Regions from separate parts of the Homo sapiens genome. Here region 1 is linked to region 2. Evidence: fine-mapped expression QTL. Tissue or cell type: left ventricle. Region 2 holds a variant in brackets; the other region holds the start of a gene. All regions are shown on one strand. Distances are between the middles of the regions.

Evidence for each region. PIP is the estimated chance that this variant, and not a neighbour inherited with it, causes the effect.
Region 1: it holds the start of POLR1A, and the variant in region 2 is fine-mapped to the expression of POLR1A in left ventricle (GTEx, PIP 0.92).

What each region holds. Positions count from the first base shown.
Region 1 is chr2:86,101,528-86,109,623 of GRCh38, reverse strand. It overlaps POLR1A (RNA polymerase I subunit A), which reads left to right and starts at 3,738. Exons shown (of 34, transcript NM_015425.6): 1 at 3,738-3,924. The coding sequence starts at 3,848. PTCD3 (pentatricopeptide repeat domain 3) reads right to left here and starts at 3,389. Exons shown (of 24, transcript NM_017952.6): 1 at 3,273-3,389; 2 at 1,222-1,274; 3 at 1,088-1,124. The coding sequence starts at 3,376. RefSeq lists enhancers at 3,079-3,338, 3,719-3,928, 4,129-4,218.
Region 2 is chr2:86,014,168-86,022,271 of GRCh38, reverse strand. It overlaps POLR1A (RNA polymerase I subunit A), which reads left to right. Exons shown (of 34, transcript NM_015425.6): 34 at 1-2,056. Among named protein-coding and RNA genes, the nearest start is that of POLR1A, 88 kb to the left of the region's middle. The variant C/T (reference allele first, on the strand shown) is at 4,793.

The DNA.
Region 1 (8,096 bases), 87 kb before region 2:
GAGCTGTTCCAATTTACTGTCCCATAAACAAACGTATTTCTTCAAATCCTCTCTCTGCCAATACGGTAAGTTTTAATTTGCACTTCTTTTATGATCCCAGTTACCTATGCATTGACATCACTGGGCTCCCTGGCCTCCCTAAAATAATCACACAGTTCAGATTAATAAAGTTCTTAAAAAAGTCTTTTTAAATGAACCCAAGTCTTTTTTTTTTTTTGAGATGGAGTCTTGCTCTGTCGCCCAGGCTGGAGTGCAGTGGCGCGACCTCGGCTCACTGCAAGCTCCGTCTCCCGGGTTCACGCCATTCTCCTGCCTCAGCCTCCCGAGTAGCTGGGACTACAGGCGACCCCCCACCACATCCGGCTAATTTTTTTGTATTTTTAGTAGAGACGGGGTTTCACCGTGTTAGCCAGGATGGTCTCAATCTCCTGACCTCATCATCCGCCCGCCTCGGCCTCCCAAAGTGCTGGGATTACAGGCGTAAGCCACCGCGCCTGGCGAACCCGAGTCTTTAGGTCACATAATTTTAAGACCTAGCTTTTTGAGGGGCCACTAAATGCGTTCAATAGGACTACACTGTAACAAGCACTTTTGTGAAGTTTTAATTCCTGCATATTCAACAAATGTTGAATAAATGAGATGAGGCAATTTGTTCAAGGATATATCCAGTGAATAAAAAAGCTAAATTTTGCTGTCCACACCATTTACTTTATTTTTACCTCATTAGAGATAATAAAGACAGTAACTGTCTGCTCTTGAATCATATGAGAGAACTTCCTTGAAAAAAATTATTCTAATGATGATGTTCATGTATAACCATGTATTATTAACCACGTAAATAGTAACCCACACTAATTCAAAATCTCTTTCAATTGTTCTTTTAAGTAAATCTCATTGCTCATTCACTCACTATTCTCCACCTTTCCATTTTTTGTCCTTTAAACTCCTAGCTTCTCCCCGCTCAGCTACTCTCTTCAAGAATGCTCTCCTATTGCTCTTCCTGTCACTGTCTCCTTACCTAACCCTTACACTTCTCTCATAGTAAGCACTCAACCATTTGCTGAATGAACACTGATAGAATACTTACCAAGTTTTCTTTTTTGGAATTACTACTTCTTCAATCCCTAATGTAAAAAAGAAAACATGAATCAGTTTCCTAGTACTACAATGGAATCCAACGTGTTGATATAAAAATAGAATTCAATATATTTTAAAATATACCTGTTACATCAGTTCCTTCAACCTTTGAGAGGGTTGCACTACCAGAATAAAATCTGCAAAAAAACAAAAGCCTTAAATCTAATAGTCATTAATGAAGTACCCAGCTCACCTCCACCTATGTGTACTTTGAGCCCAAATTCTCCAATTATCACGGATTAAACTGGATAACTCATGTCAATGAACGCTGAGAAGACAGTCTGTACACATGTTCAATATCATTAAGGAATGGATACAAGATATGGACAAGACTGTCAAAACTTTTTTTTTTTTTTTTTTAGAGACAGGGTCTTGCTCCATTGCCTAGCCTTTAGTGAAGTAGTGCAATTATAGCTCACTGAACCCTTGAACTCCTGGGCTCAAGTGACCCTCCTGCTTCAGCCTCCTGAGTAACTAGGACTACAGGCATATGCCACCATGCCCGGCTAGACAAAAGTTTTGGAAGCAAGCAATCTCATTACATAAATGGCAGAGAGGGAGGAAAGTTTTTAATAGCACTTGAACAATCTGGTTTGAAATGAAGAACTTTCAACTTCAGGAACCCAAAACACTATGATGTTTAAAAGAACAATTCAGTGAGCTCTTGCTTCTATACAGATACTGCCCTGATCAGAAAGGACTACCTCACTTAAAGCAATTACAACATAGGGAAGATGACCCATGGCTTCTCATTCCACTTCTTTCAACAATCAAGAATGTACCAAATACATAAGGCCTGATTTAGACTTGGAATTGCTGATATTTTCTATTTTCAGAGGTTCAATATGAAATCCTTTTTAAACCAAAATATAGAATCATTGGCCCATGACTGAGTTTTTAAGTGTTCTGTTTAAGTGTTCTGATCACACTAAAAACACAGTCAACACACCACAGATAATGTGACGGTTAGTATTATCTTGTGTTTCCCCTTACTAAATGGCATCAGTAACATTCAGAAAATTGTCAAGATGTGATTGCACAGACAGATACTTCCTCCAGTAGTATCTGGTTTCAGGTATCATTTAAAACAAGAATACCCCTCTACGTTAAGGACATTTCAGAAAGAGATCAACTCTTTCAAGTTTCTGAGATCAACTCTTTCAAGTCACACTATTTGTTTCTCATGACCTTAAAACAGAGATCACAGTTATTTTGAGAACGGATGCTGAGGAAGAGATTCTGCTTCAGGCAAAGAAAATGAGTAGAAAAATGCTAACGATGGCTACCAGGAAACGGAGGACTGGCATTGAATGGCAGCACAAAGGTTTCTGCAGTATCAGATGGAGTGGTTTCTCTTTCTTGAGGGGAACTAAGGGAGAGTACATATAAAAACATATTGTAAATTACATACCCCACTTATACCTCACAAACTTTTCGGATGGTTATTACCAACTCTAGTCTGCAGATGAGGAAATCTGTCTATTATCATCCAATTAAGTGAATGGCAAACACTAAACCTAAAATTAGGCTTTTAGCAAGTTTTCACTACAAATTACTGCCTCTCATATTCCCACAATGCCACTGTTTGTACTGAGTGAAAAAAAAATTACACAGATAGGTCATACATGTTCCAAGCTATAACTATCACAGATCAAAAGGGCATAGTCAGATCTTTTAGACTTTTCTGCTTTTACGAAAACCTGATAACTTCTTTAGCCAAAGTCCCCACGGTGGCGACCAGAGACTGCCTTTTATTTGGGAAGATCTTGTACGTTCTCCTCGCTCCTCCTGATTGGGTTAAAATGAGTAATGGCGGATAATTTTTAATTTGGGGTAGTGTTGCTAATAGCCACACTCACTGGAACGCAAGCTTCATGAGAGCAGGGTCCTAGCTTTGCGGATGGTGTTAACTACAGAATATTGCAAGCAACCAATAAGTATTTCTCTAATGAATAAATGCGTTGCGAATCCTATTTCAAAGGGCCACCTCCGCGTACCTGGTCTTAAGGGCACGCGACCGTTAAGGGCGCGCATGAGCAAACCATTTCATCGTGCCTACTTCCACAGCCAGCTGGGAAACATAGGACTAAGGTGACTCCGCGGTCTTCTTCGCGGATACCCTAAGCGTCTCTTACCTGCAGCTGCGTGCCTGTTCACACAAACCCGCCCGCCGACCCGTCAGCGGCTGGCCAAGCCTGCTGCGGAGGCCCAGCCAGCGAACAGCAGATACAACCGCCATCTTTGATTTCTCTGCAGAGCATGTTGGGAAAGCGTGCCTCGACCTTCAGGAAGGTGGGGCGCAGTGGGCGGGGAGCAGGGAACAGCTCCGCTATTGGCTGAAGCGGAAGAAGACGAAAGCAATCATAAAATGGGAGGTTGCAAGCTCATGGTTTGAAAGACTTCGTCACGGAAGCTAAAAGCTCTATACACCCGATTTGCCTCGGAGGAATTTTCCTAAATGATTATTTTGATGTCTTATATATCTTTGATTGTTTTCAAAACAAAAGAGCGAGCAGAGAGTCGTACAACTATTTGTTCCCCCCCCATGTAGAAGTGATCTCATCCACGTAAATGTCGTTCCTGCGACCGCTTCCGCGCGCAAGCGCACGTTGAATCGCGTGGTGACTCCGGGCTTGAGGTTGAATTAAGAATAGTCAGGTGGTGAGTGGAACGTCTCTTGGGGTGTCGGAATTCAAAACGGACCTGGAGGATGTTGATCTCCAAGAACATGCCCTGGCGGCGGCTGCAGGGCATTTCCTTCGGGATGTATTCGGCTGAAGAGCTCAAGTAAGGAGTTGGTCGGGTAGCGTGCCCAGCCTGGATCTTGAGGTCGGCGCCCTAAACTACGATTCCCAGAAGCGCTTTTGCCCAGTCTATCCTCTTGAGTCCAGGCTTGTCTGGCGCTTGTCCTGCTGGGAGCCGTAGTTCTGGGAACGTTCCTGGGCCGGCGTGGACTGCCTGGATAAGAGGCCGGTGGTGCTGGGGGAAAGAGTTTGCGCTGAGGTAGGGGAATATAAGGGTGGGGAGGGTCCTGGTCTGCAGCGTTATCATCTGCCAGTCTCCTCGTTAACTAACAAGCATTTGTGGAATTAACCATAGTGTACCTGACATGGTTAATTAGGCACGTAGTAAGTTTCCTCTTGTTTGTAAAATGATTGTCCTTCAAGTGTCAGTTCAGGCGTTAACTTCTCTTTGCTAGGACCCTGCTATATTCTCGGTCTGGTTGTTAAATCAAGGGAACTCTCTTTAGTCTTCATTTTGATCAAGGTAGCATTTGACATTCTCCAATGCACTCTCTTGAAACTTTCCTTTCTTCCAGAACCTTATTTGTCTTCAAGTTCTCCTATTTTTATGACAAATACTTCTACCTCCCTCTCTTCCTCTATCGATCTATAACCTCACAAACATTTATTGAGCATCCAGTTTTTTCCAGGCACCAAGCTAGGCGTTAATGACACATTGGTGAGCAAGGTCTGTACCTCATTTTACTCCTTAAATGTTGATGTTCTTCAAGATTCTATTCTAGTAATGTTTTCTTCATGGTAAATATTGTCCCTAGACAATCTCACCACTTTCATGATTTATAGTCTCAAATTTAAATCCCCAACGCAAATTTATTTCCCTGATTTTCAGACCCATTTGTTCAGCTGTCTGTACATCTTTAATTGAATTTCACACAGAGATCTTAAATGCATATCAAAAACTCAACATGGCCTAAATGCATATCAGAAACTCAACATGGCCGGGCACGGTGGCTCACGCCTGTAATCCCAGCACTTTGGGAGGCCGAGGCCGGCGGATCACGAGGTCGGGAGATCGAGACCATCCCTGGCCAACATGGTGAAACCCCGTCTCTACTAAAAATACAAAAATTAGCTGGGCGTGGTGGCGGGCACCTGTAGTCCCAGTTACTCGGGAGGCTGAGGCAGGAGAATCGCTTGAACCCAGGAGGCGGAGGTTGCAGTGAGCCGAGATTGTGCCACTGCACTCCAGCCTGGCGACAGAGCAATACTCTGTCTCAAAAAAAAAAAAAAAAAAACTCAACACGGCATCCCTCTTCAAAGGGAGGGGTTACTTACCCCTCCAAAATGGTGTACGTAGTGCAAAATAGTCACTAGAAACTGGAAAATTATTCTAGATCTCTCCTGACATATAACTTATTTATTGGGCTCTTACTTTGTGTCACCTACATGTCTATTTGTTCTTAGTCTCCTTTTTCTCCCAATTGCTACTGTGTTGCCTCTGGCCCTTATCTCATATTTGAATTGTCTTTTCCTTCCACCCTCCCCTTACACCTCTCAAGTGCATGCTCCACACTGCTGTCAAAATTATTCTTGCAAAGTGCAAATGTAGTCATGCTACTGTCACCCTTAAAACCCTCCAAATGTTCTCCATTTCCCTCAGATAAAGTATATTTTCTTAGCATAGCCTGCAAAGTCTCCCATGATCAGACCAATGCTGATTTTAGCTATAACATCATCCCTTCTTCAGCCCTATTAAACCACCTGCATATTCCAGAAACCGCCATCATATTTCAACATCTGGGCCTTTCTTTAAGCTATTCCCTCTGCATGCAGTGTCCTTTCAGCCAAAAGGAGGTACTTCCCTCTGTCCCCTACCCAACATACACACCTGAAAGCTCAGTTCACCTCCCTTGTTTTGTGAGGTCATTTTGCACATGATACAGTTGTCTGTCATGGTGCTTTAGTGACTTTTTGTGCTTATGTATATTTGTCTTCCTCCACTATCCTTGAGCTTCTTATATGTGTCACTCTTGTCTTTTATCCTCAAGTCTGAATAAATGGATGAATAAACTCCTGAGCCACAGCTCTGGTATCATTGGTAACAGTGTGCTAGCCCAGAAATTCCAATTATATCATCACTGCCATAAGTGGATACGATTTCATCCAAAAGCAGAAGTGTTTTAAGTTGCCTGAATTTTTAAAAAGATAATTGTGGAGTTTTCAAACAAGTTTAGAGTTGAGACATTTCAATAATACTGCCACCTTTTATTGTGCCAGGTTCTAATAGCTTCCCATCTCACTCAGAGTAAAAACCAAGTCTTTACAAATGGCCTGGAGGGGTCATTTCAGTCTCCTGTTACCTCTCTGATCTCACCTCTATTCTGGCTACCCTGACCTCCTTGCTGCATCCAGAGCACCACGGGCACACATCCACCTCAGGACCTTTGCACTCCCTGCTTCTTCCTCCTGTAAAACCCTCTGCCCAGGTGACTGTATGGCCTGCTCCCTCAACTCCTTCAGCCTTTGCCCAAGTTCCTCCTTAGTGGGCTTCTAGGACCACTTGCCTACTCTGCTCTTCCCTTTCCCTGCATTATTTTTCGTCATAGCCCTTTCTGCCGTCTAACAGACTATACATTTTGTGTCTGTTCCCGTTCCTCCAATAGAATGTAAGGCCTGTAAGCATAGCAGTTCTTGTCTGTTTCCTTAGCACTTAACACTGTCTGGCACACAGTGAGCACTCTGGGTATTTGTTGAGTGTATGAATAGATGGATAGAGGAGCTAGCTGCTCAGTGCTTGGCACTTTCAGTCCTTAACGACACCCATTCTCAGTTCTTAACAACACCATTTGTGGTGGCACCTCCAGTAAAAAATTCAGGCCCAGAGAACAAAATGTCTCTCTAGGAAGTGGCAAAGGTCATCTTCAAACCTAAGTCTATTGATCTCAAACTCTACTGACTGGTGGAATCCTTGCTAGTTGCCCCTACTCTTCATCCCACTCCTGTAATGGTGGGAGGGACTTTCTCCTCTACAAAGAGAGAGGAACTTTGTTTGACACTGTATTTTCTGTATGTTATCTTCTAATCATCCCAATAGAGCTGCTGTGATGCCCAGACTTCAGGTGAGAAAAAAATTAGGTAGTTATCAAAGGATACAGTCAGCAGAGTGAAAGGGCAACCCATGGAATGGGGGAAAATATTTGTAAATTATATATCTGATGAGAGATTGATATCTAGAACATAAAAAGAACTCCTACAACTCAACAACAACACAAAATTCAATTTTAAAATGGACAAAGGACTTAAACAGACATTTTTCCAAAGAAGACATACAGATGGCCAGTGAGTATGTGAAAAGATGTTGAACATCACCAATTTTAGGGAAATGCAAATAAAAAGCTCCTCAAATCCAGTAGGGTGCTACTATCAGAAAAACAGAAAGTAGTAAGTGTTGGCAAGGGTGTGGAGAAAGTGGAAGCTTTTTGTACACCATTAGTGTGAATGTAAAATGGTGCAACCACTATGGAAAACAGTAGGGTGGATTCTCAAAAAACTAAAGACAAAATTACCATGTGATCCAGCAATTCTACTTCTGGATGTGTATCCAAGGAATTGAAAGTAGGGTCTCAAAGAGATATTTGTATACCTATGTTCATAGCAGCATTATTCACAATAGTGAAAAAGTGGAAACTACCCAAGTGTCTATCAATGGATGGGTTGATACATAAAATGTGGTATATACATGCAATGGGATATTGTTCAGCCCTAAAAAAGGAAAAAAGTTCAACACATCCTATAACATGGATGAACCTTGAGGGCACGGTGCTAAGTGAAATAAGCCAGTCACAAAAGGACAAGTACGGTGTGATTCCACTTAATATAAGGTACCTAGAGTAGTCAGATTAATCAAAACAGAAAGTAAAATGATGGTAGCAGAGGAGATGAAGAATTACTGTATAATGGGTACAGGGTTTCAATTTTACAAGATGAAAAAGGGTTCTGCAGATGGAGAGTGGTGATGGTAGCACAATGCAAATGTACTTAATACCACTGAACTGTACTAATTGAAACAGTTATGATGAATTTATATATATTTTATTACAGTTTCAAAAATTAAGATTAAAGAACAAAAGGTAAGTAATTTGTTCAATGTTACCCAGTTCAGGGTTGCAGGTGGACTCTAGATTTGTGGGAAGAGACCACACGCACAACTTTTGA
Region 2 (8,104 bases):
CCACCTGGGGCTCAACAAAGCCTGAAAGAAGAAAGGGATGATGCTTCCAGCAGAAACCTGGAGGCCTGCAGCTCTGCCAGCCCAGCACAGCAAGCGAGGCCATTTGTCCAGCAGGGGCAGAAGGAGGGAACTCAGCCAGCCAGCGTTTCCTACAAGCAGCTCCATGAGAGGTTTCCACTTAAAATGCTAAATCATAATTATTTAATCAGATTCGTTCCTTAAGTTCTTTAAGCAGCATCGCTGTCCTACCACGAGTGGTCATCAAGGAGCAGGGTTTAACTCAACTCTGAGTTACCCGGCAGGGTACCTGGGTAACTGCCTGGGTTGAGGTACCCAGCAGGCTTCATGTGCATGTGCACACTGCCCCCTGATAGGACCTGGTTTATTCACAGGCTCAGGTGTCACTGCAGCTCCCCAGTGACTATCTTCGCGCAAGTTGGACTCAATGGCCTGGGAGGTTTGTCCCAGCCGACAGATACCTGACCATGCCCATCCTCACCATTCCCTCCCCCATGCTGCATCCATCCAACCTTGATCTCCACTGTGTCCCAGGCACCCTAAGATGCACAAGCTATGTGGGCCCTGCCCTCACAGAACTTGTAGTCTTCTGCCCCAAACAAGCCAGTTCACCGTCTTCATGATCAGGCCAAAGGTTGAGGTACCCAGCAGGCTTCATATGCACATGCACACTGTCCCCTATAGGACCATGCCTTGCCCAGCTGGCTGCACTCTAGAGGGTGCTTTGTAGGAAGGACAGAGTGGAGAGGACAGTGGGGAGGTACTTGGGTGTTCAACAGCCAGAAGGGAGGGAAACTGAAAAAGAATCAGGAGTCCAGCCATCCCCTCCCCACCTCCTGCCCCCACTTCCACCCTGGCTGCTGGCCCTTTGCCCTTGAATATGGGTGATATAGGTGTGGCTATTCAGTTCCAGTCACAGTGCTGCCTCTATGTCTTTTGCAAGCTGGGGTCTTCCTTACTCAGAAGGCCTGGAGGCCCTGCCAGATGCTGCCTTCCGGACTGGCTGCCCGCTGCAGTGTTTTCACGGGAGCCAAGCCAGCCCCGGGCCTGTAGCCTCCCATGTGACAAAGTTTCAGACACCACAGTCCTCAGCTGGACCACAGTAAACACTTGCCTTCCCCAACCCATGATTCTTGCTTGGAAACATGAACCTGATGTTCCACGTGCGTTCAGCCAATCAAACCTCAAGAATGTGATTGAGCAGTGAGGCTGCGTTTTGGGCAAGACACTGAGCTCTGAAATAAGACTTTTCTTGGAATCTCAAGCCCTCAACTTACAGTGGGACCCTAAGAAATGCACTTCAGTTTCCTTTTATGTAAAATGGTGGTAAAATTAATTGTGTTCATTAAATTGCACACAACTATACATGTTTACCTATACACTAAGTGGTTCTCAACTTGGGGCAATTTGCCCCCCAGGGGACATTCAGCAGTGTCTGCGGACATTTTTTGTTGCTACTGGAGGGAGGTGCTACTGGCATCTAGGGAGTGGAGGCTAGAGATGCTGCTAAACTACAGTCCACAGGACAGTCTCCACAGCAAAGAATTGTCCAGCCCCAAATATCAATAATGCCGAGGTTGAGGAAACCCTGCCACATACACATAGATGCGGGTTAACATTGTTTATTTTACAAAGTGGAATCATTTACATTTTAGCCATTCTGATAGATGAAGCAGTGGCATCTTTTTTTTTTTTTTTTTTTTTTTGAGACGGGGTCTCACTCTGTTGCCCAGGCTGGAGTGCAGGGTTGCAATCACGGCTCACAGCAGCCTCGAAGTCCCAGGACCAAGCAACCCTCCCACCGCAGCCTTCCAAGTAACTGGGACTACAGGCACACAACACCATGCCCAGCTAATTTTTTAATTTTTTTGTAGAGACGGGGTTTCACCATGTTGCCCAGGCTCAAACTCCTGAGCTCACACGATCTGCTGCCTTCACCTTCCAAAGTGCTGGGATTACAGGTGTAAGCCACTATGCCCAGCCTCATTTGTACTTCAGTTTGCAATTCTCTATTAATAAATCTAAGCATCTTTTCACATGTTTATTGGTTATTCTGATTTGCACTTCTGAGAACTGCCTATTTGTATCCTTTGCCCATTTTTCTATTGGGTTATTGGTATTGCTTTTGTCAATTTTAAAGAATTGTATTTACTATAGATATAGATAACCTTTTGTCACTGTGCTAAACATTTTTCTCCCAAGCCAGGTAAAGAATTCAGCACAGTCCCTGCATTGTGTAAAACCTTGAGTAAAGATGTTAGCTCTTGGCCACCCAGGCCAGTGGCCGCCTTTAGACTTTGGCTAGGGCTTCTGGAGCAGTTTTTTTTGTTTGTTTTGTTTTTGTTTTGTTTTGTTTTGTTTTTTGAGATGGAATCTCTCTCTGTCGCCTAGGCTGGAGTGCAGTGACACAATCTCGGCTCACTGCAACCTTTTCTAAGGTACATAGATTGATTGAAAAAGCACAGCTGGGCATGGTGGCTCATGCCTATAATCTCAGCACTTTGGGAGGCCGAGGCAGGAGAATCACTTGAGGCCAGGAGTTTGAGACCAGCCTGGCCAATATGGCAAAACCCTGTCTCTACTAAAAATACAAAAAATTAGCCAGGCATGGTGGCACACGCCTGTGGTCCCAGCTACTTGGGAAGCTGAGGCACGAGAATCACTTGAACCTGGGAGGTGGAGGTTGCAGTGAGCCAAAATTGTGCCATTGCACTCCAGCCCGGGTGACAGAGCCAGACTCTGTCTCAAAAATAAAATTTTTTAAAAAGGCAAATTACCTATTGTGATGGATAAGAAGACTACACTTACAGCAGCATGTCCAGTTGTGCTGGAGGGGACTGTGGTAAGAGCAGAAAATTACCAGAAATCAGGAGCAACATGAAGCAGCCCTGCCGTCATTCGTGGCTTCTGCTTGGCTCGCTTACAAATGCAGGGGCTCACTTTGACCTGGAGCTCACCAGGTGCAGGCTGGCCCCAGTCTTTTATACCTGTTCATCCATCCACTCCTCACAACCACCCAGTGAGGGAGTATGGTGACTCTCCTCGTCTTACAGTAACTCACCCAAAGACATAGTCATCAAGTCGTGGAACAGGAATTTGAAGCCAAGCAGGTGTCTCCAGAGTCTGGGTCCTTAATCTCCTCTCTGTGTCCACCCCCTTTGCTTGGACAGACCCTGAGGATTGGACTTTGTTAAAGGCTGCCCTGCATGTGGTATGGCAGGTAGATGTGAGGGCACCAAATGCCTCTCCAGGCCCCAGAACACCTCTTCTAAGGTATGTCTCTAGGAGGTACAGACGAGACTACTAGGGGGTGGGGTCTGCAGTTTATCTAGTTGGGGAGCTGGCAGCTCACAAGAGATGAAATTAGAGCAAATGAATAACAAGCAGTCACCTTAAGGAACTGAGACTCCCAAGTGATGGCCCAAATCAAAGCACAAGTCAATATTGAAGAGTTTGAGGAAATAGTGGTGGGTTAACCCAAAGGGATCTTCCAGCCTTGGGGCTTTCCTGCGGAGAGGACCTGGCTATGGACTGTACCAGTTACAAAGAACCTCTTTGTGATATCATCTCATCAAATCCCCACAGCCCGGCGACACATGTCCTGTTGGCCCCATTTCACAGTTGAAGAAATGGATCTAGTGGTGAAGGGGAGGCCAGGTCTGCTGCCCCTCTTGGAGATGTGCCTTTGCGTGGGGCACCTCTGGCATCGTCCTCGGGTTCTGACTGGTGTAGGGTGACATCTCCTAGGTCGTGCTGATCAAAGTGGCTAGTTCTCTCCTTTGAAAATAGGAGGCCCCTGAGGAATGAAAGCCAGGTCGGTGAGGGAGGGAATGGAAGGCTACAGAAGCCTGGAGGGTGGATCCATGGGAAGGTAGCCTGCGGGGCTCAGCATGGGGGGCAGAGTATTGAAAAGGGGAAATGGAACAACTTGAGCCAAGGCCATTCCACTGCCCATAGGATGTCTGTCCTGCTCACTGTACTTCTCATCCACCTTCCATCGTGGCCTCTGAAGGCCTGGCCTGGGCGGGCACAGCCCTGTCGCAGGTGCTCTTCCACAAACCGGCTCCTCACCCAGCGTCCTGCCGCCTGGGGACCACCCAACCCCAGGGACAGGGCTGCCCGGGCTCTGCCTGGGCTCTCACAGGACCTGGCAAGCTGCCCTGGCCCCTGGCCTGGGACACGGTGTTTCCCTTCCACCTGCAGGCTGACTCATTGGGATTCCTCCGCGTCCGGTCACAGCAGGCTGGGTCCCTGGGCAGCCGGCGACCATCTGGCCAGCCCAGCTCTAGACTCTCTGTTATAGGCCAAGACTCTGTCTTTTTTTTTTCTCTGTAGTCCCAATTTTAATGCTCAATTAAATATTGGACAAAGAAGGAAGGAAAGGGAAAAAAGAGAAGGAGGAGGGAATCCATGTGTCCACGGTCCTCAAAAATGAACATCTTTTTCTCCTTCATTTTCTAGAGCAGTGGTTCTCACAGTGAAGTCCCCAGGTAAGCAGCAACGGCAGCCCCTAAGAATGTGTTAGAATGCAGGCCAGGTGCGGGGGCTCACACCTATAATCCCAGCACTTTGGGAGGCCGAGGCAGGCAGATCACTTGAGGTCAGGAGTTCGAGACCAGAAGGCCAATGTGGTGAAACCCTGTCTCTACTAAAGATACAAAAATTAGCTGGGCGTGGTGGTGGGTGCCTGTAATCCCAGCTACTTGGGAGGCTGAGGCAGGAAAATTGCTTGAACGCAGGAGGCAGAGGTTGCAGTGAGCTGAGATCATGAGAT[C/T]GTGACACTGCACCCCAGCCTGGGTGACAGAGCGAGAGTCTGTCTCAAAAAAAGAAGAAGAGAAGGAGGAAGAGGAAGAGGAGCCGGAGGAGGAGGAGTTGTTACAATGCAAATTATCAGGCCGCACCCCAGACTCCCGAGTCAGAAACTGCAGGGTGGAGGCTGTTATCTGAGTTTGAACACTATCAGGGGGATTTTCACTCATGCTCCAGTTTGAGAACCTCGGCCCTAGAACTGTCATGAGGAAGCCATCTTACCTCTGGTCTGCCCTCTTTTTAGCTGTTTCAGCCCCAGAACTCTCCTGGGTTTGTGGAAATAGCCCCAGAGGCCCCCAGCCTCTGCAGACAGCAGCTCCTGTCAGCGCCCCAGTTTGACCCGCAAGCGGGCTGGGCGTGGCAGGCCTACAGCAGCAGCAGGTGCAGAATGAGCCTCCAGCTTCTCTCTGCATCCTTTGCAGGCATTAGTTCATTCAAACTTCACAACTGTCTGTGAGGCAGGCGGGCGACACCAGCACCTCTGTTTTATAGATGAAGGAAAGGAAGACTCGGGTGTGTTATCGACTGTTTTCCCGTGAGAACATTCCGACTCCTTGGGGACAAGGTCTGTGCCTGTGAAGCAGTTAAACAACTGGCAGAGAAGTTTTGTGTATCTTGGATGGGATGCGGGGCTCCCACAGATCCTCCTCCCCAGAGCCAGCTGAAGGGAGATGAACTAGGACATCCTAGGGCCTGGCATCCTCCTGCAGTGCTCCTGCGCAGCATTTTCCCAGACCCCAACGAAGCCCACAGGCACCTTTGTCTTGTATGTTTAAAACTCCTGCCAGGCGCGGTGGCTCCCACCTGTAATCCCAGCACTTTGGGAGGCCGAGGAGGGCGGATCACAGGTCAGGAGTTTGAGACCAGGCTGGCCAACATGGTGAAACCCCATCTCTAATAAAAATACAAAAATTAGCTGGACATGGTAACACGCGCCTGTAATCCCAGCTACTTGGGAGGCTGAGGCAGGAGAATCACTTGAACCTGGGAGGTGGAGGTAGCAGTGAGCAGAGATTGTGCCACTGTACTCCAGCCTGGGCAACAGAGTGAGACTTTGTCTAAAAAAACAAAACAAACAGAAAAACTCCTCTAGAACCAGGAATCCCATTTTTGGGTCTATACACAAAAGGACCCAAAGCAGGGACTCAAACAGATATTTGTTCACTCATAGCAGCATTATTGACGATAGCCAAAATGGTAGAAACAACCTAAGTATCCATGGACCGATGCATAAATAAACAAAATACTGTATATACATCCAATGGAACCTTATTCAGCCACAAAAAGGAATGAAATTCTGACACACGCTACAACATGGGTAAACCTTGAGGACATTACTCTAAGATAAAAAGTCAGACACAAAAGGACAAATACTATATGATTTCATGTATATAAGGTACTTAGAACACTCCAATTCTTAAAGACAGAAATTAGAATTGTGGTTGCCAGGAGTTGGGGTGAGGAGGGAATAGGCAACTAATGTTTAATGGAGGCAGTTTCAATTATGAAAGATGAAAAAGTTCTGGAGATGGATGGCGATGATGGTTGCACAATAATGTGAATGTACTGAATGCCACTGAACTTAAAATGATGCCACTTAAAAATGATGAAAATGATAACTTTTACATTGTGTGTATTTTACCACAATAAAAAAATATTGCAACCCCTTAATAATTCCCCATCCACCCCCAAAAAACCCTTTGGGTGTTGGGGCCATTTCCAGAGAAAGAGCATCACACAGATTATTCTGCAAACACTCCACACAGTCACGAGGCTCCATGACTCCACTGTGGCAGGGGAGGGAAGGGCCAGGACACTGGGTTTGATTTCCTGGGCCCCACTTTCTGGCCCTGTGACCTTCAGCAAGTGGCCAGCTGATCTCAGACCCCCAGCCTCCTCTTCTATAAAATGGACTAATAATATCTCAGTGTTCTCATGAAGACCAGTCAGGAAACGATTTGAATGCTTCTGGTACACGACAGGTGCTCAACATTGGTGTTATAGTTATTTATGATGTTCCCTCAGCCTCGAATGTTCTGGCCCCTTCTCTACAGAGTAAGCTCCTATTTATCCTTCAAAGACCCCTCTGCTTAAATCCCATCTCTTCTGTGAAGCTGTCATAGTCTGTAGTATGGTTCACCAGTACCGGCTTCCCCTCCCTGCCAGATGTTGGGCATGGCCATTTGACTTGAATGACTTCTAAGAGTTGCTTAATTCTTTGCCATGAATGACTTCTTTCCCTCTGGCCTGGTCACCAGTGCTGCTCCAGATGGTAGATGCTCTGGCCACCTGGCTCCCAGGCGCAAAGCCCCAGCCAACTCACAGTGCACAGGCTGCATGAGTAAGGAACAAACCTCAGCTATTTAAACCTCTGACATGTGGGGTTGCTTGTGACCCCAGTATAACCCAGTTTAGGGCCACTCCAAGTGTGATCTTCCTACTGCCAGGATCAGCAGCCCTGGGAGCATGTTGGAGATGCACACCTTGGACCCCACCCCAGACCTAATGAACCAGCCTCTCCATTTTCTCATAATTTGGTGCATGCTGAGCATGGCTTCTCTCCCATAAAAGCACTTAGTGGTGGTGGTTCCCCCCAACTCTTCCATGGCCTCTGAAGCAGGCCCTGCTAGTTGCTTCCTCTAGATCTATCCTCTCCTTCTTCCTTACTGAGAATTTGGATTTTATTGGTGGTGTCAGTGTGCTCAGGTTAAAATACTGTTTCCCAGACTCCCTTGCAGCTAGGGATAGTCATGTGACCCATTTCTTTCTCTGGACCAGAGGAAGGCACTGAATGAGACTTCGGGGAAAGCTTGTTCAAAAGGATAGGCCTAGCTAGGTGGCAAGTGCTTCTGGCCTTTGGCTTTGTTTTTCCCTTTCTTCCTGTCTGGAACTTGGATGTGGTGGTGGGGTGTTATGAAATGATCCCAGCGACTTGAGCCTCCTTGTATTCACACCGTCAGGTAGGCCCCACCAGCACTGAATCTGGGCTGGCCTGTGACTAGCTTTGACCAACTGAATGTGGTAGAAATAAGATTCAGGGACTTCTGTTCTGTTTGGAACCTGGGACCTGCCCAGGCTTGGGAGTCAATCACGTCTCTGTCAAGGGGAGAACTATTTGTGCAACTCATCATCATCCAGGCCAGAAACTGCCTCTTCATCTGCAGCTAATTGGTGACCAGGCCCATCCCTTCCCATGGCCCACATCTACCCTATGGTTGATCCATGGAACAGCTGCCTCTTGATCTCTTGCCCCTTCATCCCCACCCTTTCCACTGCT